Linked DNA regions of Homo sapiens: region 2 is linked to region 1. Evidence: fine-mapped expression QTL. Tissue or cell type: whole blood. Region 1 holds a variant in brackets; the other region holds the start of a gene. All regions are shown on one strand. Distances are from middle to middle.

Evidence for each region. PIP is the estimated chance that this variant, and not a neighbour inherited with it, causes the effect.
Region 2: it holds the start of RAB27A, and the variant in region 1 is fine-mapped to the expression of RAB27A in whole blood (TOPMed, PIP above 0.99).

What each region holds. Positions count from the first base shown.
Region 1 is chr15:55,220,014-55,222,776 of GRCh38, reverse strand. All of the region lies in intron 6 of RAB27A (RAB27A, member RAS oncogene family), which reads left to right. Among named protein-coding and RNA genes, the nearest start is that of RSL24D1, 24 kb to the right of the region's middle. The variant G/C (reference allele first, on the strand shown) is at 1,350.
Region 2 is chr15:55,288,560-55,291,183 of GRCh38, reverse strand. It overlaps RAB27A (RAB27A, member RAS oncogene family), which reads left to right and starts at 1,371. Exons shown (of 7, transcript NM_183235.3): 1 at 1,371-1,468. RefSeq lists an enhancer at 904-1,053 and a silencer at 1,154-1,683.

The DNA of each region.
Region 1 (2,763 bases):
TAGGGGATGTTACCTAGTTTGTGGCTTTGGTGGTTAGCAGAATCCAAGAAGGCCAAGAGAAAACCTTTCCCTTTTTATTGTGTGATCACTGCTTTATTCTTTCTTTGGTTGATGGAGGTTCAGAAAGCTGGTAGGGTTTATAGTGGGAAGGGAGGGGGAGGATAGGTTGGCCAGGTAGGAAGAAGCCAGACTCTGGAGGGGTTTGAATACCAGGTAAGGAGATTAGATTTGATCCCTGGAGGACAGGGAGTTGCTGAAAGCCTTTGAGCATGGAGGGATGTTATGTTTACATTTCCAGATCAGTCTATAGGCTATAGGTGGGGAGGGAGGAAAGACTAGAGATTGATAGATTGCAGTGGTCTGTGAGGTGGGCAGAGGCTAGCTTTGTGAAAAAGGAAAAGGAAGAATAAATCAGGAAAAACACATAGAGTAGGGCAGGATTTTAGGTTTTTCTCAAGGCTAGCTCAGCTGAAGGATTCCCATCCACTATAGGCTTACTCTGGCAAGGATTTGCAATTGCATGTAGAGGTTTTTACCCTAGGGCAGATGGTGTTTAACCATGTTAGAAACATCCAGAGAACTTTTAACACATTCTCATGTCTGGGCTTCACCTCTGACCATCAGACATAATTGGTTTGGAGGAGTTTCTCAGGCAGGGTTCACTTGAAGAAGCATACCTATACATGAAGGGATCTGTTACAGGAATTTGAGCATATGCAATTGTGGGAGCTGGGTAAGTAGTCTCTGTAAGGTGTTGTCTTTGTGTCTGATGCTGAAGCCTGAAGGACAGGACAGTCAGACAGGAAGGGGAGAAGGATGTGAAATGGGGGATGGATGGAAAAAGTGAGAACCAGCTGGTGCCCATAATGAGGGACTAAAACCCATGTCACTTCCTGTTGCCTCTGACCTGGCTGGTGTGGGTGTCCTGCAGAAACTGGGGCCCTTTGTCACAGGGCTAACAACATCACCTGGCCCAGGTGCAGGTCTAGTTGCAGGTTTATGACAATAAGATGAGCCAGCAGATAAGCGACAATATATGAGGGCTATGAAATGGAGGTTGCTTCACTTCCTACCCCCAAAATTGCCCCCAAATCTCTTTTGTGGCCCACCCTAACCAGAAAGGGCATTCTGGGAAATGTTGTTTAGCCTAGCCAAGCTGACTCATTACAAAGCCTGGGCATTGGTATCTTTTAAAATCTCCCCACGTGATCTTCATGTGCAATGGTTGAGAACCAGTGACTTAGGTGATTCTGAGGGGGAGGCTGACAGAGTCTTACCGGCCAGTCTGAAATGTCCCCCTGCTCCCCTGAGAGGCACTCATGTAACGTAGTGGAAAAGAAACAGGGAGA[G/C]AACGATTACCACAGAGAATGCTGTAGTGTTGAAGCTGTGAGGTATGTTGCAATGGGTAAGGAGGAAGTAAGTGATGAAGCAATGGAAACCATGGATCCTAGAGCATTCTTTTGAGAGTATGTCAGTAAATGCAAAGAAAAAAAAGAAAAAGGCAGTTAGAGGAGTTAGCTAGATCAAACAAGCACATTCAAGTATATTCTCAAGTACTGGGGGAGGGTCAGGCTTGACTTCTTGCCCCTGTGGGCTTTTTCAGCCCTTTGCTTGTTTCCTGTGCCCTCGGTCTTAGGATTCCACAGCCTGTCTGGTTTCACAGAGCCTAACCCTGCCTTCTGTCATATGGGGTATCTGAGGGGTGTGGGGGACTGTCTTTGACCTGTGCCCAGGTCACGATGGTTATGGAGTATTTCATAGAGAGGAGCTCAATCTATAGTTTTTGAATTGGGTTAAAATGAGAAAAGAGGATTTAGCAGATAATGATTGAAACCCTTGAAGAAAGGAAAGGGCTAGAAACAGAGTCCCTTAGGATACAGAAAGCATACCATGTAGTTTGGTAGGCTGTTTGGCACTTTTAGAGGAAAATATGATGGAAAAATTTGGTTCACATGCATTTCACAAATATGGCATATAACTTTAATGATTATTTTCACAGATGTTTTGTTTCATTCTTAGAACATTTACACTGGTTACACATGCACTAAAGGACTATATTGTTTAGTTTATCCATGTGCTAACAGTCAGAAAACAGGATAAAGTTTATGGCATATCTTCATATAATTTGTATGTTGTTTGATAAATTTACATTTTTTGTTACTATTATGCTGTCTTCTATTCTCAATTCATAAAAACAGATCACTGGGGCCAGGTGTGGTGGCTCATACCTGCAATGCCAGCACTTTGGGAGGCCAAGGCAGGTGGATCACCGGAGGTCAGGAGTTCTAGACCAGCCTGGCCAACATGGTGAAACCCCATCTCTACTAAAAATACAAAAAATTAGCCAGGTGTGGTGGCGGGCACCTGTAATTCCAGCTACTTGGGAGGCTGAGGCAGGAGAATCGCTTGAACCCTGGTAAGGCAGAGGTTGCAGTGAGCCAAGATCGCACCATTGCACTCCAGCCTGGGCAACAAGAGCAAAACTCTGTCTCAAAACAAAACAAACAAACAAACAAAAACAAACAAACAAACAAAAAAACCCCAGATCATTGGTTTACAATTGGTTCTCTGGAATAGACATATCAAAGAATCAAACACCATGTCTCAGAAGAACTTTGTAAGCCTAATAAAGAACACTACAGTGCGAAAATGGAATGTTAATCTGTGTGTGCTGGGACAAGTAAATTTGAGAATGAGGACTTCATACAACAGACAAAAATGTAAAGGGCAAATTGTATGCATGATAATGAATATCAGAAAAAA
Region 2 (2,624 bases), 68 kb before region 1:
CACGGGAAGAGCTCTTGAAGTTATCAACCTGTTAGGACATTTGTTATCTCTAAACCCGAGTTTACTGTGTTATGTTTGCCTGGAAATGTTATATCAAATGTATGAAATTGCCAACTGTTTGTAATTTCATATGGTTCATCCTATATGTGATTTTGTAAATTGGACCCACCTGAGAAGCTAACTGCTGTAATGCCAACTGTGAGTAGCTACAGACTGGAAAGGTGATGGAGTTGACCGGGTGGGCCTGCGACAGCTGGAATTTGCGGTGGAGGTAGACACAAGTCAGCGAGACGGCTTAGAAGGCAGAAGGGAAGCTGAACTAAGGCTTCTCAACATTTTACTCTGCTTAGAAGTGGAAACATTTGGTTCAAAGGGCCTTTGCCTTAGACTCCATAGGGACAGGCCCAAGGGCTGCTGTTCACACCTCCTGGCCACTGAGAGGGATGAACTTGGCTGCCTCTGAGTGGGAACCACGAGGTCTGACCCCCTACGCAGTCCCAGGTTCACTACCCCGCAGGCCGGAGCGACACCGTTGGCGCTGGGAGAAGAGAGCCGCTGGGTGGCAGCAAAGGCGCGCAGGTTTCTTCCGACAGAGGCGGTTCCTTAACATACTGTAGTTTTCTTCTTTTTAAACTCATTGCTCTAACACTCTTAGAAATTTACAGTGGTTTTATATTCTTGAATTACACAGTGTGAGCAGAGACTCCGTTTGCCATTTCCTCCCGGAATTACATTGATTTTTTTCCTGCGAAATTTTTTACTTATTTTTCTCCCATGTTATTTCCAGGAATCCTGGGCATTCCCTTGCCCCGGAAACGCCGTGTCCAGGCCGACCTAAGCCAGGAGCCGCAGGGGCGGGAAGCCGGGGGCAGGGCCGGGCCTGGGACGCCGCCTCAGGAGCCGCGCGGACTCGGGAACCTCGGGCGGGGCCGGCGTGAGTACGCCCGGCACCTCCGGCTGCTACGGTGGCGACCGCGAACTGATGCCGTGGAAAACACCCTTAGAACATGGCTTTTTGGGGAGGTGAATAGGGGAGAGTCCCCAAACGACACCTCGCCGCGCACCGGTCCTTGGTGCAGTTTGTAAATGTCCCTCCTGTGTCCCAAAACGAAAACACTCCTATATTTTGTAGCGCCTTCCAGAATGGGGCAGCGGAAACTAGTGTTGGGACAAAGGAGGCGAGCGGGGCCTTTTCGGGGCTCACAGAGGACCCCTCGGAGGCGCGGCCGCCGGGGAGAGCGCGACAGCACCCCGCCCCCCGCCAGCCGGGCGGGGGCCGCTCCCGAGGTGACAGGAGAAGGCGGGAGGTGGAGGAGAGAAGGTCCCGCCCCACCTCGCTCTCCTTTACGGGAAGTGATGTGGGGCCAGGCGGAAAATACCCGCCAACGACCCAAAAAAGGCCGGCGGCGGGTGGACGCGGCGCGCGAGGACCCGAGCCAGGCGGGGACAGGACGGCGGGGCGAGCCAGGTGAGGGGGCCTGAGGAGCGGGAGGCGCGCGGCGGGTCCGGTCCCTCCGGGAGGGCCGAGCGAGGCGTCCCCCTGGGGCCGTCCTAGGGCTGGGGTCCGAGTGCGCCGCCCTTCCTCCCCGCCTCCAGGCGCCCGAGCCCGCCTGAAGAGTGGCTTCTCTCCCAGGCCCTCAGCGCAGACCCCAGTGATGACAACTGCCTGGTGCTGGCCAGGTGCGGTCCCAGGTCCGGCCAGGGTCTCAGATCGCCTCCGGGTTGCATCCAGGTGGGAGGATGCCCATCAGGGGTAGGAAACTTTCCAGGAGGGAAAGGAGGAAAGTCCCCGACCTCCCGCACGCCCCCCGGTTCATTCCTCCCTCTTTTGCTTTCAGTTTAACTGTTTAACCTGGTTGCCCTCCGGTTGGTGAGGGTCTGGACTGCAGACTAGCTGCGAGGGAGGGGCTCTCTCTTCTCCTGTCAGTTAGACTGAAAACTACCTGGCAGCCAGGCCCTCCGGTCGGGACTGGTGGTGGTGCAGATATGATGACAGGCTTTGGTAACTATTGCCAAAGCCTGTCTCTGTCCCAATAGATCACCAGTTCAGCAAAGTCAGGCCTGAAGCGAAGGGAGTCTTGTGAGCCCTGGACTGAGGAGCCTTCCCAGCCTTTCCGCTCCTGCTGGCCACCTGGGCCCACATGGCCTCAGGGTCTTCTGCCACAGGGTCCTTACCCCTACAGCTTAACAGCTGTTCTTTCCTTCTGGATGGATTCTCACATTTTATGGTTGGTTGATCAGTCAGATGTTGGAATTGGGGGTAGAGGGATTATAGAGTTGTGTGTGCTATTTAAGTTTTCTGTAATCATTGCTAATTAAATTTGTTGATTCTCCACTCACTGTTCTTGTTCTTTTTTTTTTTTCGGCCTTAAAAACTTGCTTTAGAGGGAAAATACAATCTGGAAAACAGTTTCTGCAGATGGTTAGAAGTGAAGAAAGGTTAATATAATGCTGAAGGAACTTGACTGAGGATCATTATTTTCTGTATTTTATGTTGGTTTATGTTGTTTTATGTTTTCATTCCTACTTTTTTCTTCCTTCCTTTCTACCATTCTCTCTTCCTCCCTCCCTCCCTTTTTTCTTCCTTCCTTAATTTCTGTGACGTGCCTTGATTTTTAATTTCG